Linked DNA regions of Homo sapiens. The protein of the gene in region 3 purifies or fractionates together with the protein of the main gene of each other region. This does not show direct contact. Each region holds a gene or a part of one and is shown on either strand. Other genes may lie near its edges.

Region 1 (7,036 bases), on a different chromosome or scaffold from region 3:
CCCAGCCTAAATCAGAATTTTAAAACACAAATAATCGATTCTTCTAAGTGGTGATTTCATTTAGTTACCCAGTCCAGGTTCTTTTTTGGAAAATAGCCTGAAAACAGTGTTTCTGTGAATTGTTCATTTATGCATTATTTTGGGATGTTACATGGAAACTTTGTACCCCAAAATCACCATACGTAATAAATAGTCTGAAATTTTATAGCTAAGCTTTATTATGGGTTATATGATCTCTCAATTATTCAGAATAGGTTTCACAGTTAACATTTATACCTCTTATTACCTGGCACAGTGCCTTATACCTAATAATGTATTTTAAAAGTTGAATTGCTTCTAACTTTTACTGTTTTTGTTTTTAGAAAAGGTATAGTTTGGCAGTGGGGCCTCCAAAAAAAGACCCAAAAGTTAAAGGTGTCCAATCAGCAGCTGTACAAGCTTTTCTTAAAAGGAAAGAAGAGGAGCTGAGACGAAAAGGTATGTATCTATAGCCTTATTCTCAATTTTAAAGTATTCCATCTTCACCATCTAGCTTGTACTAAACCAGTGGCTGTCTATAAAAACATAACAGGCCAACAGATTTGGGAGGGTGTGTGTGTGTGTGTGTGTGTGTGTGTGTCCAGGTTAACTGACTGTATTCATGGCTTTACATATGTTACCTCGATCATTTGTATAAACGTTTTCTTTTTTTCTCCCCTTGAAGTAACAGCTTTTTGGGGGTTAGTAGCCATGTCTTCTAATTGGCCATAGTAAGTCCCCAGTAAGAACTCCATTCTTTCTTTAATCTTGGTTCTGAAAGTGTTTCTACCCATTTTGTATTTTAATTTTTATTAACAGAATGCTATCTAAAAGGCTAAAATAGAGATAAGTTTTAAAGTCTTTATTTCGAATAGTTCTACTTCATGCAAATACAAAGAAACTGATTCAATATGTTTAAGTATTCATTGAATCATAATTAATAACAACTACTAAGTGGATACTAATGTTCTCTTAACTTGGTAATGTATTTGGTTTGAAGTATTTTGTATATTTAAAGCTGAAAACCAAGTCTCCCACTTGCTTAGTCATATAGAAAAACCCATATGTCTCCCACTCATTATGTAAAGATGACTCAATTGATACTTGTTCACATGACTTCCTCATTTGATTCCTAGATGTCTTCAAACTGTAACCTGAACGTTGTGTTTTCACTTGAGCATACTGCAATCTTGAGATCTCGAAGTAATAACATATTCTTGTTTTGTCCCTTTTAGCCTTAGAGGAGAAAAGGAGAAAAGAGGAACTAGTGAAAAAGCGAATTGAGCTCAAACATGACAAGAAAGCAAGAGCTATGGCCAAGAGGACAAAGGATAATTTCCATGGTTACAATGGGATTCCTATTGAGGAAAAGTCAAAGAAGAGGCAGGCAACAGAAAGCCATACCAGCCAAGGAACCGACCGAGAGTATGAAATGGAAGAAGAGAATGAATTCCTCGAGTACAATCACGCAGAGTCAGAGCAGGAGTATGAGGAAGAGCAAGAACCTCCCAAAGTTGAAAGCAAACCAAAGGTCCCCCTTAAAAGTGCCCCACCACCCATGAACTTCACTGATTTACTCAGGCTGGCTGAGAAAAAGCAGTTTGAACCAGTGGAAATCAAGGTAGTGAAGAAATCAGAAGAGCGACCTATGACCGCAGAAGAACTTAGGGAGCGAGAATTCCTTGAACGAAAGCATAGGAGAAAAAAACTTGAGACAGATGGAAAACTACCTCCAACTGTGTCCAAAAAGGCACCCTCTCAGAAAGAAAGTGTGGGCACAAAACTTAGCAAAGGTTCTGGAGACAGGCATCCTTCTTCCAAAGGAATGCCCCTTCCTCATGCTGAGAAGAAATCAAGACCCAGCATGGCCAATGAGAAACACCTCGCTTTGTCTTCATCCAAATCCATGCCAGGAGAGAGGATCAAGGCAGGATCTGGCAATAGCTCCCAACCCTCACTTCGTGAGGGCCACGACAAACCTGTTTTTAATGGAGCTGGAAAGCCTCATTCCAGCACCTCTTCACCAAGTGTCCCAAAGACTTCTGCTAGCAGGACTCAGAAATCTGCTGTTGAGCACAAAGCCAAAAAATCTCTGTCCCATCCTAGCCATTCCAGGCCTGGGCCCATGGTCACCCCACACAATAAGGCTAAGAGTCCAGGTGTCAGGCAGCCAGGCAGCAGCTCTAGCTCAGCCCCTGGGCAGCCCAGCACAGGGGTTGCTCGACCCACAGTTAGTTCTGGCCCTGTGCCTAGGCGCCAGAATGGCAGCTCCAGCTCAGGACCTGAGCGATCAATCAGTGGGTCCAAGAAGCCAACCAATGACTCAAATCCCTCTAGGCGGACAGTCAGTGGTACATGTGGCCCTGGACAACCTGCAAGCAGCTCAGGTGGCCCTGGGCGACCCATCAGTGGTTCAGTTAGTTCTGCAAGACCCTTGGGCAGCTCTCGTGGCCCTGGCCGGCCTGTGAGCAGTCCACATGAACTTCGACGACCAGTGAGTGGCTTGGGCCCCCCGGGGCGGTCTGTCAGTGGCCCTGGGAGATCCATAAGTGGCTCAATTCCAGCTGGACGGACTGTCAGTAATTCAGTCCCAGGAAGACCAGTGAGCAGCTTGGGACCTGGGCAAACAGTTAGTAGCTCAGGTCCCACTATAAAGCCTAAGTGCACTGTTGTCTCCGAAACAATTTCTTCCAAGAATATCATTAGCCGGTCCAGCAATGGACAGATGAATGGAATGAAGCCTCCCCTATCTGGCTACAGAGCTGCCCAAGGTAAAATTTCCCCTCACCCGAAAGAGTATATATTTGTCATTAGGAAATTGGAAAGAGTTTTTATATTATCAGGGACCCTTTGAACCCCTCATGTGCTGTCCTTTAATGTGCTGTAGTGTTGATAGAATCGTGATGTTTTATCTGCCTTGTGGTTGAGAGTTCCTTGTTTTTTTGTTTTTGAGACAGGGTCTTGCTCTGTTGCCCAGGCACAATCACAGGCTCAAGCAGTTCTCCCACCTTAGCTTCCCAGGTAGCTGGGACTATAGGCGTGTGCCACCATGCCTGGCTAACTTTTTATTTTTTATAGAGATGGGGTTTCAGTATGTTGCCTATACTAGTTTCTAACTCCGGGGCTCAGAGATCCGCCTTCCTCAGCTTCCCAAAATACTGGGATTATAGTCATGAGTCACTATTCCCTGCTGAGAGTTCCTTTAATGGCTTGGAAAGGTCTTTAGAAAGAGACTTGTCTAGGATCTCTGTGTTCACCCTTGAAATGTCCCTAAGTGTGATAAACTTAGCTTTGTGATTTGTGAACATTCAGGGTGAATGTACGTGACTTACATATGTATGCTGCAATGGATGAATTAATCTACTTTTTCCTGAGGACTAAAGAGACCTGTCTTCAAGGATCAGGGTATAATCGGAAGCTTATTCAGCAGATATTTCTTGGGCACCCATTATGTGCCAGGAACTGTTTTTAGATTGTACTTGTGTTTCTGCTTGTTATAATGGTTAGTATCAAGATCCTAAACACTGATCCTTCAGGAATCTGCTGTCCCAAGGTATATGATCATTGGTGGCACCTGCTAGCTGCTAGGTCGTACTTGCTTTATGCTAATAGAGATTTATTAAAGCACTTGTTAGGCTCCACGGAGAATATAAAAAGGAACCAATGATTGAATTACTTGTTTTAAATTTCCTAGTTCAACTAGACCATTGATTCTTAACAAGGGCAATTTTGCCCTCCAGGGGACTTTTGGCAATCGTCACAACTGGGGATGGGGGATGCCACTGGCATCTACTGAATAGAGGACAGGGATGCTGCTGACAAACAATGCATGGGATAGCCCCCTGACAGCAAAGAATTATCTGGTCCGAAATGTCATTGAGCTAAGGTTGAGAAACTAAGCTAGGGAGACAAGCCATGCATATTAAAAACAACCGTAGAAGAACAAAAGAAGTGTCTGTAATCAAAAACTAGAAAGTAGTTGTTCCCAGATCCTGGGCTGTTGATCAATGCCTGTCTTTTGCAAAGTTTTTATCAGTCTTTTGGTAAAATGACAAAAATAAGGATAATGTAGTGAGTTTTTCCTACAGTCAAACTTACTCAGTTTGAACAATATAATTCTGAGAGTCATTCATACTTCATTCAACTTTAAATTTTTAAATGAAATTGTGATTATAGTAGATGGTAGTTGCTACTTTTGGTGTCTTGGCAAAAGTTAATGATTCTGTGGAGGTTTGTAAATTGTATTTATTTTTAGAAATTTTACTGATTTTGGCCGGGCGCGGTGGCGCCGCCTGTAATCCCAGCACTTTGGGAGGCCAAGGCAGACAGATCACCTGAGGTCGGGAGTTCGAGACCAGCCTGACCAACGTGGAGAAACCCCATCTCTACTAAAAATACAAAATTAGCCAGGCGTTGTGGCACATGCCTATAATCCCAGCTACTCGGGAGGCTGAGGCAGGAGAATTGCTTGAACCTGGGAGGCAGAGGTTGCAGTGAGCCGAGATCGCACCATTGCACTCCAGCCTAGGCAACAAGTGAAACTCTGTCTCAAAAAAAAAAAAAAGAAAGAAAGAAATTTTACTGATCTTATAAATTCAGAAATATTGGCACTACTAAGCTAGAAAATGTAACAAGATATTTCTGGTAAGCCCTGGGATAAAACAGGAGTTCTGTTCCTTCTGGATACCATGACACAGCAAGGATGATGGCTCTGCGCTAAGGGCCAGCCTGCTTGCTCTGGTTTTAAAGGATACCATCTTAATGATGACTCACAATTTCAGTTTACATAGAACTGCATTGGAACTATTTTAAATTGTAATATTCTTATAAATAATGGTTTCTTAGGTCCTCAAAGGCTTCCCTTCCCTACTGGTTACAAAAGGCAGCGAGAATATGAAGAGGAAGATGACGATGATGATGAATACGACTCTGAAATGGAAGATTTTATTGAAGATGAAGGAGAGCCTCAGGAAGAAATATCCAAGCACATTAGAGAAATCTTTGGTTATGACCGAAAAAAGTAAGACTAAAGAAGATTCAGATAACTATGACATCCTTTTTTTATTTTGAATAATTCATGTCATGGGGTAATAAACTAATAGTGGAGGCACTGAATACAATTCTTAATTAGGAACCCTTGGGTGATTGTTATTTAAATAAACGTACTCTTTTAGCACTAAATATTTTATATTTAATTCAAAATAGTTTCTGTAGTTATTTGCATGAGGAACAAAAAATAACCCTTTTAAATTGTTATTCTTATAAGATATATATTTAGTGAGATGGAAGCAGCTTAGTGTAGTAGAAGTAGATTGGCTCTTGAAAAAACAAGCTGTATGTTCTTGGTCAGTCTGTTAACTCAACTGCTTCAGTTTCCTCTGGTCTAAAGTCTTTCCCCACCTCATGATGGTCATGAAGCTCAAATTAGATTATTATATATAAAATAATTTTCATATATACTGTGCTTTCAAATTTTAATATAAATTATCAAGTAAATGTAGGTGAGTGAGTTGAGGAAGCACTGTAGGATTGGTACCTTCATGAACATTAGCTTCAGAATAGTTGCCCTCTGAGGGTAATAAGGGCTTATCTAAAACTTGTCTTTACTTCAGAAACCTATCCATCCTCCACTCCCCTCACTCGCTGCCAAGCAAGGAATAATTCTAAATGTGTGCTTGATTTAGTTTTAAAGGAGATATTGATTTTTTAAATGAGAGGACGTAGTTCCTTTAGAAAATTGAAGTTTTCTCTTTTTATCATTTTGATTTCCTTTTATCAGATACAAAGATGAAAGTGATTATGCCTTACGTTACATGGAAAGTAGTTGGAAAGAGCAGCAGAAGGAAGAAGCAAAGAGGTAAGCATAAAATTTAGCATACTTGTGCAAAAATGTCCTAAAAATTCCTTTCTGCTTATTGCTACAATTGCACCATTGGGAACTGGGGCTTTGGGCCAGAGAATTCTGGATTCCAATCCTGTTTACTAGCTGTGGGGCCTTGGACAAATTCCTTAACAGTTCTGTTTTTTCACTGGTTTTTGTTTTTTTGTTTTTTAACAGAGATGGGGTCTCGCTATGTTGACCAGGCTAGTCTCAAACCCCTGGCCTCAAGTGATCCTCCCATCTCAGCCTCCCAAAGTGCTGGGATTACAGGCATGAGCCACTGCACTGGACCATCACTGTTTTTTTTGTTTGTTTTGTTTTTAAGAGATGGGGTCTTGCTTTGTTATCCAGGCTGGTCCCAAAGTCCTGGGCTCAAGCAATCCTCCTGCCTTAGCCTCACAAAGTGTTGGGATTATAGGTGTGAGCCACCATGCCCAGCCTATTTTCTTTTGTAAAATGAGAATATACTGTTTTACTCATTTAAGTATAATGAGGATTAAGACGTGTACAAGATGCCTAGTGCAGTGCCTCACATGTGTGGATACACAGTAAATGTTAGATGCTTTCCCTAATCCTGTTGTAGCAAATTCTTGCTTTTCTTTCTGCATCAGACACATCTCAATCTTGGTAACCTGTAACATTGCTGGCCTCAGGGATGTAGGTATATTACATTTCCTCTGATTTCTGTTTGGCTATCTGATAGTAAGCTAATGATACTTTCTCTATTGGGGTAAAAAGTAATTACTTTGTTTATAGTATTGTTGTTTTTTTTTTTTTTTTTTTTTAAGAGACAGGGTCTTGCTCTGTCGCCAAGGCTGGAGTGCGGTGGCATGGTCACGGCTCACTGCAACCCCCACCTCCCCGGGTTCAAGCGATTCTTCTGCCTCAGCTTCCCAAGTAGCTGGGACTACAGGTGTGCGCTACCACGCCCAGCTAATTTTTGTAATTTTTAGTAGAGATGGGGTTTCACCATATGTTGGCCAGGCTGGTCTCAAACTCCTGACCTCAGGTGATCCGCCTGGCTCGGCTTCCTAAAGTGCTGGGATTACAGGTGTGAGCCACTGTGCCCGGCCATAATGTTATTATAGGTAAATAATTCACTTCAGTCTCAAGCCAGAATACTATATCTTTTTCTCC
Region 2 (7,036 bases), on a different chromosome or scaffold from region 3:
CATGAGCCACCGCGCCTGGCCCCTGGTGTTTTCTTTGGGCTGTATTTCATCGTCTTGCGTTTTTCTGCTCCCCAGGGTGCCTGTTACTCCTGTGATGCCCTCTGGAGCTCCCCCTCAGTTATTAACATGTAGTTGTTCGTTATTCTGATTGCCTTTGTTGTGGGGGACAGATGTGAGGGGCTACTAGTCGGCCATCTTTTTGATGTCATTTGTGTTTTCTTGATCATAGAAGAATATGAAGAAAATAACTGTTTTTAGGATATGTCTGTTTTTTAAGACTTTGAAACAACCACAGATGTTCACATTTGCAGCCTCCATTTGCAGAACTGTACAGTTTGTTCCATAGGGAACTGGAAATGAATAATACATCTCTCGTTTTTTCTTTGCATTCCCAGAAAATATTTACAGATTTGCAGTCTGAAGGATTCCCTGTAATAGAGACCAGCACCCTGACTGAGGAAGGTGTTATTAAAGTTAAAACAGAGGTCAGTGCTGCCTTAAGTCAGGTATTAGTCTTTTTACTGTCTCTTGTTTGATTCAAGTCAGTTGTGGGGAGAAAATAGTTTTCTTTCTAGACATTGTTAACACTTGGAGCCCTCGCAGTAGCGAGGCGGGTGGCGTGCGAGAGTGGGGCGTGAAGACAGACCCTTCTAAGACCCACTTTGCCCCCCGTGGACAGTGGGTTGTGAGGGGATGCTTTGCTCTTCTCACCCCAAACAACTTTACCCTAAAGCAGCTGTTGTCTCTGGCCTTTTAATATTTCGGTAGCAAGTACAGTGAAAATTATTTTTATGGAACCTGTTCGAAGTAGAAGGGAGAAAAGTCTGAAAAGCAGAACAGCTTTTGCAGGAGGCAGTCCGCTGCTGGATTTCACATGCTGTCCTAATTACTTTGTATTTCATGTTGTTTTTATCTCAAATAAAAGGACATTTCTGGCCAGGCGCAGTGGCTCACGCCTGTAATCCCAGCACTTTGGGAGGCTGAGGCGGGTAGATCACCCAAGGTCGGGAGTTCGAGACCAGCCTGGCCAACGTGGTGAAACTCCGTCTCTCCTAAAAATACAAAATTAGCCGGGCGTGGTAGCGCATGCTTGTAATCCCAGCTACTCGGGAGGCTGAGGCAGGAGAATCGTTTGAACCTGGGAGGCGGAGGTTGCTGTGAGCTGAGATCATGCCACTGCACTACAGCCTGGGCAGCAAGAGCGAGATACCATCTCAAAAAAAAAGATGGCACTCCTGATGCCATGGTCGCACTCAGGATTTAAAAAGATGGCACTCCTGATGCCATGGTCGCACTCAGGAATTTGTTGCTCGGTTAGAGTCCTGAGGGGCAACATTGCCTCCGGTTCGTGAAGGGCAGTTGGAGGGCACCGTCTGTGCAGAGGGTCACTGTGGTGGGAGAGAGGCCCAGGCACTGGAGATGCACCTTCCCTCAGGGCCGCTTCCACCTGGGCCTCAGAGAATGTGGCCCCCTACGTGTTAGTTACCTTGAGGGAAAAGGCTCAGTGGCTCTGATCTGTGGCTCCTCCTGGAACCTGTAGCTGGAGGCTGCTGGAGGATGCGTTTGTGACTGTGCCTTCTTTTTTACGTTATTAGGCTTGCGATAGGCTTTTGGCTCATCGAGTGGAAACCAAAATGAAGGGAAATAAAGTGAATGAGGTGCTGAATAGACTGCACCTGGCTATCCCAACCAGGAGGGACGATAAGGTAAGACGGCCCCTGGGACAGCCGTGGGCTCACAGTACTGTCAGCAGGTGCTGTCTGCGTGCCTTTTCCAGAAGCCTCCCATCCAGCTTCACACACTCGCAGGTGGATATTGTGGGTGGGCCTCAGTTTCACCTTCTTGCTTACATAAAGGATCGAGAAGGTGAAGAAAGTGCAGAACGCCACATGGCACCCGTTTCCCACTGCATGACGTGGTCACTGTTAGTTTATCCTTCCAGAAATGTTTCTGATATAGAAGATTAGTTTCTAAAAAGTTCTTTAAACACAGATGGAAATCTGTTTCATTCTTTAAATTTTCATTTTTTTGGCTGGGGGAAGTAGCTCACGCCTGTAATCCCAGCACTTTGGGAGGCCAAGGTGGGAAGATTGCTTAAGCCCAGGAGTTCTTGACCAGCCTGGGCAACATAGTGGGACCCTGTCTCTATAAAAAATAAATAAAATAAATTTTCATTGTTTTGTCCATTGTGAATGGGCACACATCGTTACGCTGTGTCTTCATGTTTTACTGCAAATGTGTCTGCACTTCACCATGTGGTGTTGACAACGTTCCTGTCCCACAGACGCCTTCCTGGTGTGTGCTGCACTGACGCTGGAGGCTGTGTCCTTCCCTCTGTCTTTCCTTGTGTCCTCGGCGTGGTCGGGCACTGACTGTCAGTCTTGTGTAAAGATGATTTTATTGTTGTGTGTTTATGTAATGCTGGGTGCGGTTGAGCATGTTTGTCTGCTTATTGGCCTTTTCAAAGTTCTTTAGGCTGTTTATCTTTTTCTCGCTGATTTGTTACTTTTGTATTACAAAGGTTGGATTCTTGTCAGATACATTGCAAATTTTTTTCTCTTTTTGTCACTTGCCTTTTTAACTTCAAATGTGCTGTACATTTTTGAACTATTAACATATATTAATTTTTTTTTCTGGGTGTTCAGGTTTGCATTGTACATAGAAAGGCTTACCATTCATTCCAAAGTCATTTTAAAAGTATCTTTTCTTGCTGGGTGCAGTGGCTCACGTCTGTAATCCCAGCACTCTGGGAGGCCGAGGCGGGTGGATCACCTGAGGTCAAGAGTCTGAGACCAGCCTGGCAATCATGGTGAAACCCCATCTCTGCTAAAACTACGAAAATTAGTCGGGCGCGCACCTATAATTCTACCTATTCAGGAGGCTGAGGCGGGAGAATCGTTTGAACCTGGGAGGTGGAGGTTGCAGTGAGCCGAGATCACTCCACTGTACTCCAGCCTGGGTGACAAGAGTGAGACTCTGTCAAAAAAAAAAAATTATCTTTTATACTAGCATTAAAAATTAGCTTTTTTGGATAGTCTTCACCGTGTCTTGAGTTGGTTATGTTGTGAGGGTGGAGGTTGCACTCCGTTTCAAGTGGTCGGCATTTCTGACCTGAGTATTGGAAATTTTATGTTTCCATTGAATTCTTATATGCACTTGAGTTTATGTCTAAATTTCTTTCATCTGTTGATCCAGTGTTATTTCTTACCACTTTCTTCTTCCATAATTTTTCATGATAATCATGATTTCTGTTTTTCCTGGATAAACTTTGGAATCACTTTGTGGAGTCCTCCTGGTCTCTGTGCTCAAAGTGACCCTGAACCCACTCCTCTCCCCTAAAATAATCTGTTGGTTGTTAATTGGTCTCGGTATGAACCCACTCCTCTCCCCTAAAATAATCTGTTGGTTGTTCATTGGTCTGGGTATGGTTTTCTGTTCCCCTTGCACGTAGGGAATTTGTTTCTACTTTTTCGGCTTTGTAAGTTTCTCATTCAGCAGGCATTTCACATAAATATTTTATATGGGATCTTCTCAGGAGAGGCCCCCTTTCATCCCTGAAGGAGTGGTGGCTCGCAGGAAGAGGATGGAAACTGAGGAGTCCAGGAAGAAGAGGGTATGCTGCCGAAGCTCTCGCCCAGTGTTCTCATGGGGGGAGGCAGGCTGTGTGTGCCCATCGTGGGGGCCTGGGGCATCGAACAGGAGCCGCGGGTGCCCAGACACTGGCCCCGTCAGGCTGCGGACACAGCAGTGAGTCCCCCTGCAGAAGCCTCTCTCATGGGGCTCTTTGGCCTGAGGGAAGATGGCCGTGAACCAAATGCATGAGTGGGATAGACAGTCCCCAGATGGCCAGAAACAGCCTCTTCCTACCAGAACCTAAAGGCCGGCCCCACAGACAGGGAGATAAGAAACAGCCTCTTCCTACCAGAACCCAAAGGCTGGCCCCGCAGACAGGGAGATAAGAAACAGCCTTCCTACCAGAAATGGAAGGTGAACCCCACTGATACTGAGAGGATTGGAGAAAAGATTGTTTCAAGTGACAAGGGGCAGAGCATTTCTGGATCTGAAAGGCAAAATGAAGCTGATGATAATTTCTCTTTCTATTGCAGGAACGAGATCTTGAGCTGGAAATGGGAGATGATTATATTTTGGATCTTCAGAGTAAGGGCCAGAGTGTGATCATTATTATAAAATGCCAATTGGACGTGAAGTATTTCAGAAAATGGGGGAAAGACTTTAATAAGTAATAAAAGTGTTTCAGCCTATTTGTCAACTTTTAATTTCTTGAAGATTAAAAGTTGCATCCTGAGGGCCAGGTGCAGTGGCTCACGCCTGTAATCACAGCACTTTGGATCCCTTATGCCCAGGAGTTTGAGACCAACCTGGGCAACATGGCAGAACCCCGTCTCTACAAAAAATACAAAGATTAGCCGGGTGTGGTGGCATGTGCCTGTAGTTCCAGTGACACGGGAGGCTGAGGTGGGAGGATCACTTGACCCTAGGAGGACAAGGCTGCAGTGGGCAGAAATTGTACCTCTGCCCTCCAGCCTGGACGACAGAGTGAGACTCTGTCTCAAAGAAAGGTGCATGCTGATAGCACTCAGTGGGGGTTCTTCCATTGTTTCCTGTTGTTTTGGGATGGTGGGGTGATTTCTGTAGCTTTCTCCACGTGTGGGTGTTGAATGAGGCTGATGTGTTGTTTCCTGTTGTTTTGGGATGGTGGGGTGATTTCTGTAGCTTTCTCCACGTGTGGGTGTTGAATGAGGCTGATGTGTTGTTTCCTGTTGTTTTGGGATGGTGGGGTGATTTCTGTAGCTTTCTCCACGTGTGGGTGTTGAATGAGGCTGATGTGTTGATGCTGCTGCATGTGGAATTGCACGTCGTGCTCTCTTCTGCAGTGGAGTCGTTGATTTGCCGTCAGTCACAACTCATTTTGCGCACGTAGTACTTGAAGATATTAAAAACTGCTGTAAACGTAACCACCTTTTTTTTAACTTTAGAGTACTGGGATTTAATGAATTTGTCTGAAAAACATGATAAGATACCAGAAATCTGGGAAGGCCATAATATAGCTGATTATATTGATCCAGCCATCATGAAGGTTTGTGTCACTTTTTAAATTGCGGATTGTTTTCCTTTTTATTATAGTAGTATTGCTGGAAGATAGCAGCATGGCTTCGGCTCAGCTGGGCCTGTCCGCTTCATTCTGCACCCCTCCATCCTGACTCTGCCCCCTGTACCACTTCCCCACCCTGAGACTCTGGTGGAGATACTGGCCCTGGCTGGGCTCTGCTATGCTGGCCTGCCCCCTTCCCGCCGCCTCCACCCACCCACCCCGGACACTCTGGTGGAGATGCTGGGCCCCTTCGTTATCCTGCACCCCTCCATCCTGACTCTGCCTCCTGCACCTCTTCCCTGTCCCGACACTGGTGGAGATGCTGGGCCCCTTCATTCTCCTGCATCCCTCCATCCTGACTCTGCCCCCTACACCACCTTCCCCACCCCGAGACTCTGGTGGAGATGCTGGGCCTCTTCATTCTCCTGCACCCCTCCATCCTGACTGTGCCTCCTGCACCACCTTCCCCCCCACCCTGTGTCTCCGCCAGGCCCTGGATGGGCTCTGCTGTGCTGGGCCCTTCATTCTCCTGCATCCCTCCATCCTGACTGTGCCTCCTGCACCTCTTCCCCCCACCCCGAGACTCTGGTGGAGATGCTGGGCCCCTTCATTCTCCTGCATCCCTCCATCCTGACTGTGCCCCCTGCACCACCTTCCCCACCCTGTATCTCCGCCAGGCCCTTAATGGACTCTGCTGTGCTGGACCCTCTTCCTTGGGGGCTCCGCTGTGTCACATCTTTTTCCTGCCTCAATCCCCTCCCTACTTGCTTTTTCTTAGCATATAAAAGTCCACAAGTTTTACTCATCTTTTTAAAAAACGAAAACATCCTTAGACCGTGTCCTCCATTAGTTGCTATCCTGCCTTCTTCTCTCAGCTGAGCTGTCTGAAACATGCTAACATGCTTATACAATACTTGCTGTCCTGCCTTCTGCTCTCAGCTGAGCTCTCTGGAACATGCTTTTTATACAATACTTGCTGTCCTGCCTTCTTCTCTCAGCTGAGCTCTCTGGAACATTCTTTTTATACAATACTTGCCATCTGCATGTCCCATGTTGCCACTCCTTGGTTCCCACAGGCCCTCCGTCATTGAGTTCACATTTTCAGTCTCGTGGTCTCTGTGCTCCCTGTGCCTCCATAGCAGATTCTGGGATAGCAGATTCTGGGGGCAACAATCTCAATTTCGTTGGTGCTGGAGGAGTGGCCTCAGGGCATCTGCTGTCACCTCTGCTGGGGCCCCAGTCCAGCCCGTGCCCTCACTGTCCCCGCGGTGGCCGCCTGCCTTCCCAGCCTCTTCCCCTCTGCAGTGCGCGCTCTTGGGCGCAAGAAGCCTTGAGACTTCCCTCCTCCGCACAGCTGTGCCCGTGCCATCCCCTTCCACGAGGCCTGGCCCCCGTCTCACCCTCTGCACTGCTGGCCAGCATCTCGTACAGGCACATCTGCCTGCTGGGCTCCTGGCCGGGTTGCCTCATTGGGGGGTGATAAACGTGTGTGTTTTAGTTTTCATTTTTGTCTTATTTGTAGCCAGTGAGGTTGTATTTGGGGTGACATTAGAACGGACACGTGGGATGTGGCACGAAATCAGTGTCTCAGGACTGAGTTCCTTGTGTGTGTCTGCCGGGAGCATTGGAAGTGAAGGAGGCGGTCTCTGCACATTTTTAGCCTTGGAATTTAATTGTTTTAAAAAAAGGAAATGGTGCACAGGGGTTACTGACTTGCTGGCGGCTGGCGTTCACGTGGTCTCCATTTTCTTCACAGAACCCTCCCTGTGAGGTAAATGGCACATAGGCAGGGCCCAGGTGGGTCTGGACCAGGGCAATCGCTCTCCTCTGAGTCAGGGAAACAAAGCTCCCATACACACTCTGCCACACTCACTGACTCAGGGGTTTTCTCATTGTTAATTTTGCTTCATTACAACTCCATTT
Region 3 (7,326 bases):
CTGAAGTCTATTGTTGGTATTTCTATTCTGTTTCGCTGATCTATTTGCCTGTCTTTACAAAAATGCCACACTGTCATGATTACTTGAATTTTATAATAAGTCTTGAGATTGGGTAGTATTAGTCCTCTTATTTTGTTCTTGTTTTGCAAAGTCGTTTTGGCTATTCTTGGTCGATCACATGTCCATATTAATTTTACAGTCAGTGTATTCACTTCTACAAAAATCCTTCTGGGATTTTGATTAAAGATAATTTGAGAACTGACATCTAAATCATCTTATTTTCCAATCCTTTTATTTCATCTGTTTCCCATTACTGCATTGGCAGGAACCCCTATTATAATGTGGAATAAAAATAGTGATAGCAGCTATTCTTATCTATTTTCCAATAGCCAATGTTTTTCTACTGAGTAGAATATTTGCTATAGATTTTGGTAGATATCCTTTATCTACTTTGATAACATCTCTTTTTATCATGAATTAATGCTGATTTTTACAAAATACTTTTCTGTATCAATTTAGATATGATTTTTCTCACAATATGTCAAGGCAATATGCCAGTCCTTGACCTGATTGGCCTCAGATCCCTTTCTCTCTCTTTCCTTGCTCTGTTCTCCAGTGTTCAGGAGATGATTGTAGGCTGCACTTCCTATGTTCTCCAACATTTGGCTGCCATCATGGTTCAAGCAACAGAAGGCACCAGCAGGTTAGTACAGTACAGGAGGACAGAAGCAGCTAGAGTTTATATTTTATTTTCTCTCTCTGCATCAGGTGCCTTCAACTGCTTTCAAGGTTTACATCTTCTCCATGGCTCTCACCCTCATCATACTTATCCACCTTAGTTCCAGATCCTATTGACCCCAACTCCAAGGCTCCATTAACATTATCTCCTTTATTTGTTTCTATCCTAGAGACTGAAGAAAATTTCTTAAGCTGCCAAATATTGGCTTGCCCGCCTCTCCCGTTTGGCTTCTCCATCACTTGAGTAACCAATTTTGTGCATCATATTCAACCTGACTTATGTATTTAAAGTAATTTCTGTTTTCCTGGATAATCTTTAACAGTTATACTTGGCTAATTATATTGATTGTTCTAATGTGAGACCATTTCATTCACAGGAAAGCCTCAACTGAGTCACTAGCAGTAAAATGTGTTCAAGTCTTTTATATTATATGTAACCAAAACAAAACACCCCTGGGAGACTGAAACCTCCTCTAAATAACTATGTCTCTCTTCTTCACATCCTTCCCCAAAATAATTTTTGCACTCACTAGCATTTGCGCACACATATTCAAAAAATTCTAAGAGCATAAGGAATACAGAGATATATTCAGCTTGTAAAATAATCAAGCACTGCACATAAAACTCTATAGCATTACCTGTGGGAAACAAATCAGGTGGTACACAAAGGAATATTTACAGCCTTAAATAAACTGATTAGAAAAAAACAGAAATATTTTAAACATGCAAAACTTCAAGAAGCTAGAGAAATAAAACCATATTTAACCCAAAGAAATAAAGCATAGGAAATAACTAAGATAAATGCAGAAATGATTAATTAAGACAGTGGAGCCAACTAACAAAAGCCTATTCTTTTAAAAGATTTATATAGGAGACAATTTTATAGTCATCTTCAATTACAAAAGAAAACTGATAGTAGCTTTAAAATACTGTACAAAAATAGGTGCAGAAGGAACTTGAATACCATAAGAGAACACTGTAAATATCATTAACAAATGATAGACAAGGGATGATTTCTACAGAAAGATATATTTCATCTAATGAAATCAGAAGGAATGGTAGAATTAGAAAAATTAACATTTTGCAAACCCTAATTAATTAATGGATAAATATACTAATCTTCAAAGACTGCCAACATCAACAAAAAGGGAGACAAATATTCGGTCCCCCTCATAATGGAAGTTACTTCCTCGTAATGAAAGTTCACATCACCTGTAAAGTGATCTTTCCAAATAAAACGAGAGAGAATAAAAATTAAATTTTAATATGATAAAACCTCTACCAATTGAAAGAAATACAGAGAAGAATGACATTAATGTTGCACAAAGCAAAAGCCAGACCATGTGAAACTGAACAGAGCATAAGATCTGTTTTTTTGTAAAAACAAAGATTGCAGGGATAAAGAAGTAATGTATGTGTGTTGGGGGGAAGAATGTATAAATTAATGGTCATAAAATGCAGTGATAATGATTAGATTTATTTGGACCCGGGTTCAAGAAAAAACACACTTAAATGATGTCAGTGGGTAAATGTGAAAATAACTGAACAGTTAATTACATGAAGGAGTTAATTTTATAAGGTGGGGTAGTGTTATCAGTTAATATTTCTGTCTTTAAAAACACATACTGAAATATTTAAAGATGAAATGATGTGATGCCTAGGATTTGTTTCACATTATTCCACTGGCAGACATGGTGTTATGTGTGAGTATAGACGAAGCCAGGTTGGCCATGTGTTGATGATTCTGAGTTCCAGGTATATTCTCTCTACAGTAGAATATATTTGAGAATTTCTACAATAAAAAGAATATATATAATCATTAAATTTGAAACCCCAAATGAAAACAGACCATTATTTAGGAAAATATGAATGGCCCAATTAATCCAAATAGAAATAAAAATCTGTAATTGCGAAACGCAAAATGAAACTGATCAAAGCTCCAGCCACCCTCAAATGTTTTGGGACCAGGCATTTTGGGACCAGTTCTACCAAATAAGCAGTGAAAAGCTGACCATCTTATGTAAACACAAAAATAACCACCATCTTATGATGTTCAACTCACTTTCCCAGGCTAGCTTTCTTTGATTAAAAAAACAAAAAACAAAAAAACAAAACAAAACAAAAAGAACAGCTGAGGATAACCTAGGTGCGGGGAGGGGAACAACTGAGCCAAGTTCACCCACACAGAGGCAAAGATCCTCAATAAACACATAGCAGGTCCAATATTGCAGTTAATTCAATGGAAAAAAAGTCTGTATCCATGAAATGTAAAGATAATACAACATTAGAAAAAAATTGCCTAAAATATTCTCACACTAACAGATTAGATTATTATTATTATTATTATTTGAGATGGGTCTTGCTCTGGCGCCCAGACTGGAGCAACCTCGACCTGCTTGGACTCAAAAGATCCTTGGGCCTCAGCCTCCAGAGTGGCTCAGACTACAGGCGTGCGCCACCGTGCCCGTCTAATTTTTTTTTTAATTTTTTATAGCGACCGACTCCCACTATGTTGCGGACTGGTGTCGATCTCTTGGGCTCCAGCAATCGTCATGTGTCAGCCTCCCGAGTAGCTGCGCTCGGCCATTACATTTTTTTAAATGGGCATTCGATCATGTACTGAGGTACAGAAAAATTTTTCAACAAAAAATTCAACACAAATGCTTGATAACATTCCACAAACTAACATCAGAAGATAACTTTCATTTCCTAAAACCTATGGCAAACAAACTTAAATGTGAAATGCTGAACGCTCGACGCATTCTCATTAAAGCAAGGAACCAGACATAAATGTATGCTGAATACATGGCCAGAGGATAAGACTATAAAAACAAATGTAACTTGGAAATATTTAATAGAAATAGAAATTATTTGGTGAAAATGTGATCATCATTTTAGAAAATCCAAAGGAAAAGACCACACCCAATCCAAATCAATAAATGACTTCTGAAAAGCGGTGTATAAATCACTGTAGCAAAATCAAAAGCCTTGCCACACAAAGCAGTAGTAATAGAACATGCATATAATATATTTGGTGGAACAAATAAGACCATAATTAAAATGAATTTCACTGCACAATACAATGCAATGTTAGATAAAGTCAAGAGATCTGGGTCTCACAAAATTGTGTACATCTATGGCTTCTCTATAGAAAGTAGATCTTTTAGAACAGAAAGTTCGCAATGTCTACATTTCGCCAGTGAAGAGACCCCATAGTTATAATGCACTTACTCCAACATCTCAGAATCTGTCTTGGGCACCCTACCTTTGTGCTGCGGCCTCTCTTCTCCCATCAAGCCTGGAACGCAAACCCATTATCCGTAACGGTTTATGTTGCAAAACTGTCCAGAGCTTATTGTTTGGTGATTATTTCTCTAAGGAGCCTGTAATCAATGAATTAGGAGCCAAAATATGGATCTACTTCCGAGAGGACTTAATATTACTATTACTCCATAACAAAGAGGGCGCCACAGAAAGTCACGCCACGCCGCCCTTGCTGGCAGCCCTTCGGGCCGTGGGCAGGATGCCCGGATGTCACGTACACTTCCGCTTCTGCCGTCCGTGGGAGGTGAGGCCTTGCAGTGAGGCGATTGGTATCTGGTCAGCAGAGAAAGGCATCCAGGCCCCGCCAGGAGGTAAGGCAAAGACACTGAATAGCATTTGAGGGGACCCACTACCACAAAAGAAAGAACGCCATGCCGTCCGGCCTCGGCCTTAAGCCGCAAAAGCCCCGGGCAGGGATCCTCTTAGGTATCGCACTCTGCATTATTCTTCTGGAGAGTCAGGGAAGTGATAGCATTGGGCTAAGGTGCTGGCATCAAGCCACCAGAGATTGGGGTCTTAGAACCCTCCAGTAGTCAATAAAGGGTTATTATTTCCCTAAGGGGCCTTTAATCAATGAATTAGGAGCGAAAACATGGATATACTTCCTAGAGGAGGACTTAATATTACTACTACTCCATAACAAAGGGGGCGCCACAGAAAGTCACGCCACACCGCCCTTGCTGGCAGCCCTTCGGTCCGTGGGCAGGATGCCCGGATGTCACACACACTTCCGCTTCTGCCGTCCGTGGGAGGTGAGGCCTTGCAGTGAGGCGGTTGGTATCTGGTCAGCAGAGGAAGGCATCCAGGCCCTGCCAGGAGGTAAGGCAAAGACACTGAATAATGTTTGAGGGGAACCCCTACCGCAAAAGAAAGAACGCCATGCCGTCCAGCCTCTGCCTTAAGCCGAAAAAACCCCGGGCAGGGATCCTCTTGGGTATCGCACTCTGCATTATTCTTCTGGAGAGTCAGGGAAGTGATAGCATTGGACTAAGGTGTTGGCATCAAGCCACCTGAGATAAGGGTCTTAGAACCCTCCAGGAGTCAATAAAGGGTGAGTTCCATAAAACTCCCTTTCTGCCATAGCGGACCGGTCCCCACAGAGCCCAGCCTCTGCTCTCAAGCCTGGGTGATCCTAAGTAGGGGTAGCTGGAATTTCCACCTTTAACCTCTCAAGGAGATGAGGGTATTGGACCACGGTGTCTGCCTCGGGCAGCAGGGGAAGGAGTCCTATTGAGAGGTGACAGCATGCTGGCAGCCCTCACAGCCCTCGCTGGCTCTTGGTGCCTCCTCTGCCTGGGCTCCCACTTTGGTGGCACTTGAGGAGCCCTTCAGCCCACCGCTGCACTGTGGGAGCCCCTTTCTGGGCTGGCCAAGGCCGGAGCCGGCTCTCTCAGCTTGCAGGGAGGTGTGGAGGGAGAGGCCTGGGCGGGAACCAGGGCTGCACGTGGTGCTTGCGGGACAGCGCAAGTTCCCGGTGGGCATGAGCTTGGCGGGCCCGGCACTCAGAGCAGCTGGCAGGCCCCCCGGCCCAGGCAGTGAGGGGCTTAGCACCTGGGCCAGTAGTTGCTGTGCTCAATTTCTCGCCAGGCCTTAGCTTCCTTCCCGTGGGGCAGGGCTCAGGACCTGCAGCCCGCCATTCCTGAGCCTCTCCCACCCCCCCAACCCCGCCAGCCCCCTCCAACCCCGCCAGCCCCCCCCAACCCCGCCAGCCCCCCCCAACCCCGCCCGCCCCCGCCCCAACCACCACCCCCCCGCCGGCCCCCCCCCCGCCCCGCCCGCCCCCCCCCCCGCCCGCCCCCCCCCCGCCGCCGGCCCCCGCCCCGCCCCGCCCCGCCCACCGCCCCCACCCCACCCACCCCCCCTCCTGTCCTACCGGAGCCTCCCTGACGAGCGCCGCCCCCCGCTCTGCGGTGCCCAGTCCCATCGACCACCCAAGGGCTGAGGACTGCGGGCGCATGGCGCGGGACTGGCAGGCAGCTCCACCTGCGGCCCCAGTGCGGGATCCACTGGGTGAAGCCAGCTGGGCTCCTGACTGGTGGGGACTTGGAGAACCTTTATGTCTAGCTAGGGGATTGTAAATACACCAATCGGCACTCTGTATCTAGCTCAAGGTTTGTAAACACACCAATCAGCACCCTGTGTCTAGCTCAAGGTTTGTGAATACACCAATGGACACTCTGTATCCAGCTACTCTGGTGGGGATTTGGAGAACCCTTGTGTCAACACTCTGTATCTAGCTAATCTAGTGGGGAGGTGAAGAACCTTTGTGTCTAGCTCAGGGATTGTAAATGCACCAATCAGCACCCTGTCAGATCAGACCACTCAGCTCTCTGTAAAATGGACAAATCAGCAGGATGTGGGTGGGGCCAGATAACAGAATAAAAGTAGGCTGCCCGAGCCAGCCTTGGCAACCCGCTGGGGTCCCCTTCCAAACTGTGGAAGCTTTGTTCTTTCACTCTTTACAATAAATCTTGCTGCTGCTCCCTCTTTGGGTCCACACTGCCTTTATGAGCTGTAACACCACGAGCGAAGGTCTGCAGCTTCACTCCTGAGCCAGTGAGACCACGAACCCACCAGAAGGAAGAAGCTCCGAACACATCCGAACATTAGAAGGAACAAACTCCGGACACGCCACCTTTAAGAACTGTAACACTCACCACGAGGGTCCGCAGCTTTTGAGACCAAGAACCCACCAATTCCGGACACACTATGCTCTGCCACGTGTTAATGAAATGCCCCAGTGTGGGCTGTGGGGGAAACTAGCTTCCCATAAAGATGGCGGCCTTAGAGAATCCTGCCCTTCCTGTAAGTTCTGGGAGGTCCCTAGCGTGGCTGTAAGGCCCAGGTGACCCCTCGCTTCATATTCTGGTGGTGGTCGTGGGGAAGGGTACAAACTAAGGCTAGCGCATTGAGGTCAGCAGTGGAAGGAGTCTTTGGGGGTAACCAGGAGTTTAGTTTAGAACCCAGAGCAAAGACTGAAGGGATTTTCTTCCCAGAACAAAGGGGACCCAACAGAGTACCACTACTATGAGCCTTGGTAGCCTTTCAGCATGACTCTCGGCTAAGGTATCCCTCAATTTATCCTTAGTGGTCACAGGGTGATGAGGACATAGATTTGATAGGGCAGTCAGTGGCAGGTCATTAGAGGGAGGTGACTCAGGCCCTTATGGAAGTCAAAGTGAGGACTGATGGGGCTAGGCACTGCCTCTGTGGTCAGCCTTGGGAAGCCCTGGGCAGATTTGTCATTCTGAACGCACCCCACCC
Region 4 (6,904 bases), on a different chromosome or scaffold from region 3:
GGCAAGTCCAAAATCTAGGTGCCAGCAGATCTAGTATCTTAGTATTTGATGAGGCACTCTTCTTGATTTGCAAACAGATGTTTTCTCGTATCCTCACATGGCAGAGATCAGAGAGAAAGGAGGTAAGCTTTCTTGTGTCTCTTCTTACAAGGATGATAATCTCATCATGAGGACTCCACCTTCATGAACTAATTACCTCCTAATACCATCCCATTGGGGGTTAGGGTTTCAACATATGAATTTGGCGGGACACAATCATGCAGTTCATAACAGCCTTCTATGCCACTGAAGAACTTCAGCTTTTACTCTGAGTGAGAAGGGAAGTTGGAAGAATAACCTGATCCATTTAAGGCTCTCTCTGACCACTACATGGAAATACAGTGTAAGAGGGTAAGGGAAAATGCAGAGAGACCAGTTAAAGGTCAGTTACCAAGTATGTTTCCAGGAGAAGGGAGAGACCAACTGTGTCCAATGCTGCAGGTTAAGTTAAATAATGAAAATTGATGTGATTGGTGATCTTGATAAAAAACAGTTTCAGTGGAATGGTAGAAGCAAAAGATTGATCGGCAGTTTCTTAAAAGTTACACGTAAACCTATCATATTGATCCAGTTATTCTATTCCTAGACATTTACCAAGATATTTATGTCCACATAGAGACTTGATGGCACGACATGGTGGCTCAAGCCTGTAATCCCAACACTTTGAGAGGCCAAGGCGGGAGGATCACTTGAGGCCAGGAATTCAAGACCAGCCTGGACAACATAGTGAGACCCTGTCTTTTATATATATATATATATTTTTTTTTTTTTTTTTTTTTTTTTTTGAGACGGAGTCTTGCTCTGTCACCAAGGTTGGAGTGCAGTGGTGCGATCTTGGCTCACTGCAACCTCCACCTCCTGGGTTCAACCGACTCCCCTGCCTCAGCCTCCTGAGTAGCTGGGACTACAGGTGCGCGCCACCACGCCCGGCTAATTTTTTGTATTTTTTAGCAGAGACGGAGTTTCACCATGTTGGCCAGGATGATCTCGATCTCCTGACCTCGTGACCCGCCGCCTCGGCCTCCCAAAGTGCTGGGATTACAGGCGTGAGCCACTGAGCCCAGCCAAAAATATATTTTTTTAAATTAGCTGGGCATGGTGGCACACCACCTGTAGTCCCAGCTACTAGGGAGGCTGAGTTTAGGAGTTCAAGGCTGCAGTGAGCTATGATCATGCCACTGCACTCCACCCTTGGTGACAGAGCAACACCCTATCTCTTAAAAAGAGACTTGAACATGAATGTTCACAGCCAAAACTGGAAACAACCCAAATATCCAGCAACTAGTGAATGGATAAACAAATTGCAATATGTCTATATGATGGAATACTACTCAGGAATAAAAGGAGTGAACTATTGATACATACAACACCATGGATACATTTCAAAATAATTATGCTAAGTGAAAGAACCTTGACCTCAAATAATAGGTACTGTATGATTCCATTTGTATACAATTCCAGCAAACACAGACATATCTTTGGTGACAGAAAGCAGATGTGTGTTTGTCTGGGGATGATGAGGCACAAGGAACGTTTGGGGATGATGGATATAGTCATTATTTTGATTGTGATGATGGTTTTATGGGTACATACATATGTCAAAACTTATCAAATTGTTCACTGGGTAGTTTGTTGTACATCAATTATATCTTAATAAAGCTATAAAATAAATACATTATAATTTTAAAAATAAAGGATGGAATTTCACATGAAAGCAGAGATGTTGGCCTTAGATACCCAAATTATTTAACATCTGAAAAATATATATTCAGTTAGCCACTCTTAGTCTTAGAGTTCTCATTTATCAAAAACAAATCCTGCCTTCCATGCTGCTGGAGGTAAAATGAACTGACCTATATGCCCTCCTTAGAATAGCAATTAAAGCCTTTCATATCAGGACAATATAACCTTCTCAGCTCTTTCCCTGCTGCACCCTGCCCTCCCAGCCTTTAGTCACACCAAACTTATGGCTATTGTTTCAATACACCAGACATTTTCAAGTACCTGTACGCAGTCTTTTTTCTTTTTTTTTTTTTTTTGAGACAGGGTCTCACTGTATTGCCCAGGCTGGTGTGCAGTGCTTCACTGCAACCTTAACCTCCTGGGCTCAAGCAACCCTTTTGCTTCAGCCTCCTCAGTAGCTTGGACCACAAGCCTGTGCCACCATGCCTGGCTGATTTTTCAACTTTTTGGTAGAGATGGGGTCTCACTATATTGCCCAGGCTAGTCTTGAACTACCCAGCTCAAGTGGTTCTCCCACCTTGGCTTCCCAAAGTTCTGGGATTACAGGCTTGAGCTACCACACTTAGCCAGATTTTGTTTTGAGAATACTTTTTTTGCCCTCACTAAAACAACCTAGCCAAAAAATTTTAATTTAAATCTATGCTTTTTAAAAAAGATTTATTGCTGACATTTATTTCTTAACTTCACAGGTAACTGATTTGATAATTAATAAATAAGTCATTCTCCAAAAGCAGCTGAATAACATGGTTTGTGAAGCATTCTTTATTTTGTGTGCAGGTGTGATTACAGAGTTGTTTTGTTTGGGGCTCATTTTATCATCGTCACAGATGAGGTTGGCGTTCTATAAAATTGCTTTGGTTAAGCAGAACCCTATTGTCTGGCTATTTTGCCAGACCAGCAACCAGCTACCAGCTGTTAGGCTATGTTTTTTCTCATGTAGTTACAATCAAGACTGTCTAGATTGAAATCTCATCTTCCTCACAGGCTATGAATTGAGGCAGTCAACTTCCCTGAGCTTGTTTCCTCTTCTGTAAAATGTAGATAACAATAGCACCTATTTTAGAGGGTTGTTCTGAGGATTAAATAAGTTAATACAAGTGCTTGGAATAGTGCCTGGCACAGGGTGGGTAATTAGGTTTTTTTTTCTCTCTCTCTAATTCACAACACCCTACCTCATTCATTCAACCCTTATTGATTTTTTACACCTTGAGATTGTAGAAATGTATTCTCCTCTTCGAATTACCAGGATCTGAATTAAAAACTCTGACTGAGGAGTGCTTACAAAGCTTATAACGATGGTTGAATTTTAACGATTAATTGCATTTATTAATGGTCAACATGATCACATTTTATCCAGCCCTCTTTTCCCTTGTATGGGTCACGCTAAGTTGAAACAACCAAAACCAAAATAAAAACATATCTAAAATCATACACATTAACTTATATGACCCTCGTTGCTCTTTTTTCCTCCTAAGAGGGAATAGTGTTATCTAGCGCCACGGTTCTTTTCAGTTTTGTTTTGTTTTGTTTTGTTTTTTATACGGAGTTTCGCTCTTGTTGCCCAGGCTGGAGTGAAATGGTGCAATCTCGGCTTACCGCAATCTCCGCCTCCTGTGTTCAAGCGATTCTCCTGCCTCAGCCTCCCTAGTAGCTGGGATTACAGGCATGCGCCACCACGCTCGACTAATTTTGTAATTTTAGTAGAGACGGGGTTTCTCCATGTGGATCAGGCCGGTCTCGAACTCCCGACCTCAGGCCCGCCTTGGCCTCCCAAAGTGCTGGGATTACAGGCGTCAGTTTCTAATTTTAGACTGCGGGATTAAAAATAAACGATTAATCCTCATTTATGTGCTTCATATGGGTGTCGGAATGACGATACATGCTAACACACGTGAAAAAATTTACATTTCAGATCCTTTCAGAAACGCAAGGCAATATTAAGTAGTAGCATATGCCCAAGGGCGAGGGGCGGGTCGGCGGTGGCTGGCTCTCCAATACACCACAGAGTATTTTGGCAACGAGAGTAATTTTGACACTCTGAGGCTTCCGTAGCATAGCTCGCTTTAGGAACCGCTAAGGTGTCGCCTGCCTAGAGTCCCATGCGCTATTTCCGGTCATACCCGGAAACACGAGTCCAAGCTGCAGCTGGCAGGGATTGCGGGGTGCCGGCCGTCTGAGTTTTTTTAAAACTGCTCGCCGCGAAGTCTGTCTGCAGCCAAAATGTCCAACAGAAACAACAACAAGCTTCCCAGCAACCTGCCGCAGTTACAGAATCTAATCAAGCGAGACCCGCCGGCCTACATCGAGGAGGTGGGAGTGCGGCGCGGCAGACGCTAGAGGCCGGATAGTGGATGGTTGAGACGCCGGTGCGGGAAAGCATGGAGTGGGGCTGGGATCCAGGCTCGCCGCCTATTCTTCTGTTAGGTTCAGGGGTCCCTCCAGAGGAGAGAAGGGGTTGGGGACGGGACATGCCTTAGGGTTCGTTCCCCACCTCTTGAAAATCTGTTGCCCCTTTGGATTTTCTACCTGCCCTGCTGCCGCTGAAACACCTTTAAAACCTCATTTTGTTTTAAGATATTTTTCTTCGTCCGCACGGAAGTGGAGAGAGAAATGGGCCGCACCCAACCACCAACTTCCACGCGGATTTCTCAGCCTCTTTTCAGAAATCCCAAACTTGAATTAGTCGGTAACCTTTGATGAATCGTATGTTAGAATGCTTTCGATTGACGTCCGTTTCTGAGAGCAGGCTGTGTACCCTGGACTGTGCCAGGAAAGGGGGGGGGGGGGTTTCTCAAGCACAACGGACAGACTCGGGAGCTTAGTATATTTAGTTAAGCCAGGATTCAAACTTACCGGAGACTGGCATGACTCGGATGTCAGAATTTGCTTCGGGAAAAGATTAGGTTGAAAAATTAGGCCCTCATTGTGATGGGCTTTGTGTACTGACCTCATGTAAGTTGTGAACATTAGGGGTGTTTGAACCAAGTACCGACAAAACGAAAGTGGTTTTTGATATATTAATCTGACAGGTGCTTCCTTCAGACACTCATTTATCAGACGGGCATTAAACAGGTATCTCTGCTAGGCATTTGCTGCAATTACATGTTTGTGCTTCTACCAGATTGTGATTTGTTCAGTGGCTAACACAATTACTTATTTTTTCATTGCCCTTCTCACTTCCCTCCTCCCCTAAATTTTCACATATATGTATTTTATGAGTGCTTTTTAACACATGGCAATCTCAGTGGCTTAGGTCACCAGTAGAGAAAGCCTCTCCAAGGATCAAGGTAGTGGAAATAAAGAGTAGGAAACAAGTACAAGAAGTTAAGTAACATAGGCAAGGCTTTGAGATGCTTAAAGCATTGTATAGCCATTCGCAAAGAAAGTGGTAAGTTGAGAGTCTATATAATTCCGTTAGATAACTCCTGCTGCTGACTGTTGTTAACCAGTTGTGTAACCGAAGCAGGTTAATCGCTGAGCCTATGTGGGTATTTTAATATGTAAGAAGGGGGTAATAACTACTTCTTTAATTCACTTAAGTATATATGCAAAATCACATATAACTACTGTGTGTTGTTATTCTAGGTAGGCGTTGGGGTACAGTAATGAATAAGACAGATAAGAAAGCATTCTTCTCTTGGACTTACATTCAAGTGAGTGTAGACTTATTATGGTAGAGATTATGAAGAAAATAAAACTGGATGGGAATAGGTTAGAATTGGAGGCTTCTGATTTAGACCCCGTAAACAGGGAAGGTGGCTCTGCAATGATGATATTGAGCCAGGCAGGTAAACATCATTTTAGGTACAAGGAATAGAAAGTGCAGAAGCTACTGGTGGAAAAAAAGCAGAGAAGAAGCCAGTGTAGCTAAAGTGTAGTCAGCATAGAAGAGGGCAGTGGAAGATGATGTAGGAAATGCAGGCAGGGGTCAGCTTATTCAGAGCCTCTTAGGCCCTGTTAACGAGTTTAGATTTCACTCTGAGTGCCTCGGGGAGTGATTGAAGAGTTTTAAGCAGGAGAGTGACATGATCTGACATATTTTTTTTAAGAATTTACTCTGGAAGTTACATGTGGAATGGCTTGTAGAGGAGCAACACTGGAAGCAGGGTAACTAATATAATGGATCTCAGAATAACCAAGCAAGGGATTGTGGTGTCATTGGAATTATGGGCAAAGATTCGTGCTGTTCTACGTGGAGGTAGAGCTAGTAGAGCCTTGGGATTTCTGGTGGAGTGGATGTGGGGGATAAGGAAAAAAGAAGGAATGAAGGATCACCCAGGTTTTTTATTTATATGTCTAGGTAGATGATAGTGCCATTTCCTGAAGTTCGTTCATTTGACAAATACTGTTGATTACCTGCTATATGTAAGGCACAATGCTGGGCCCTGGGACTACATAATATTGAGCTGTACCGATAAAAATTCTATGCTCATTAAATGACATTCTAGTAGGGGGTGATATACAGTAACAAATAATATAGTATGTTAAATAATGAAAAGTGCTGTGAAAAAAAGACAATAGGAAAGTACTTATGTATGTTGGGGGTGAGATGGGTATTGCAGTTTTAAATTGGATAGTTAGGGAAGGTCTTCTTGAGATAGTAATCTTTGAGTGAAAACCTGAAGGACATGAGGGAGAGCTGTGCATATGTTTAGGAAGAATGATCTAGGCAGAAGGAACAGAAGGTATAAAGACCTTGGGGTAGGTATGCCTGGTAGATTTCAGGAACATAAAGGCCAGTGTGGCTCCAAATAGGGAATGAGGAAAGGGGGTGAATTTGGGATTCTACCTCCCAATGAGATGGAAGCCTTTACAGGGTTTTGAGCAGAAGAATACATGAACCACCCTATATGAGAACAAGATCACCGTTACTTGAGGATAGACTGTATGTAGGAGGGCAAAGATAGAAGCAGAGACACCACATAAGAAGCTATTGGAATTATCCACAGCAAGAGATGATGCTGGGTTGAGTGGTGCTAGGATGGTAACAGGAAGTAGTAAGAAGGGTGATTAGATCCTGGATTGGGTAGGTAGAGAAAGCCCTGGGGATTCCCAACATTTAAAGGCCAGTGAGTTTCTAAGTAACTGGAAAAAGGGACTGAGAAAGCAGCCAGTGAAGTTT

Evidence for each region.
Region 1: the proteins of MAGEB10 (region 3) and SPTY2D1 purify together in Homo sapiens (affinity purification with mass spectrometry; 2 studies listed by BioGRID and IntAct, with this or other methods). This does not show direct contact.
Region 2: the proteins of MAGEB10 (region 3) and GTPBP4 purify together in Homo sapiens (affinity purification with mass spectrometry; 2 studies listed by BioGRID and IntAct, with this or other methods). This does not show direct contact.
Region 4: the proteins of MAGEB10 (region 3) and SDAD1 purify together in Homo sapiens (affinity purification with mass spectrometry; 2 studies listed by BioGRID and IntAct, with this or other methods). This does not show direct contact.

The regions. Positions count from the first base shown.
Region 1 is NC_000011.10:18,610,316-18,617,351, reverse strand, and holds part of SPTY2D1 (protein SPT2 homolog), read left to right. Parts: intron 1-362; coding exon 363-477; intron 478-1,253; coding exon 1,254-2,789; intron 2,790-4,863; coding exon 4,864-5,038; intron 5,039-5,797; coding exon 5,798-5,875; intron 5,876-7,036. UniProt on the Homo sapiens protein: Histone chaperone that stabilizes pre-existing histone tetramers and regulates replication-independent histone exchange on chromatin.
Region 2 is NC_000010.11:1,005,423-1,012,458, forward strand, and holds part of GTPBP4 (GTP-binding protein 4), read left to right. Parts: intron 1-395; coding exon 396-485; intron 486-1,595; coding exon 1,596-1,706; intron 1,707-3,535; coding exon 3,536-3,613; intron 3,614-4,106; coding exon 4,107-4,158; intron 4,159-4,997; coding exon 4,998-5,098; intron 5,099-7,036. UniProt on the Homo sapiens protein: Involved in the biogenesis of the 60S ribosomal subunit. Acts as a TP53 repressor, preventing TP53 stabilization and cell cycle arrest.
Region 3 is NC_000023.11:27,803,664-27,810,989, forward strand, and holds the start of MAGEB10 (melanoma-associated antigen B10), read left to right. Parts: upstream 1-4,326; 5' UTR 4,327-4,373; intron 4,374-7,326.
Region 4 is NC_000004.12:75,987,940-75,994,843, reverse strand, and holds the start of SDAD1 (protein SDA1 homolog), read left to right. Parts: upstream 1-3,898; 5' UTR 3,899-4,002; coding exon 4,003-4,092; exon of another isoform or gene 4,093-4,133; coding exon of another isoform or gene 4,134-4,148; intron 4,149-6,904.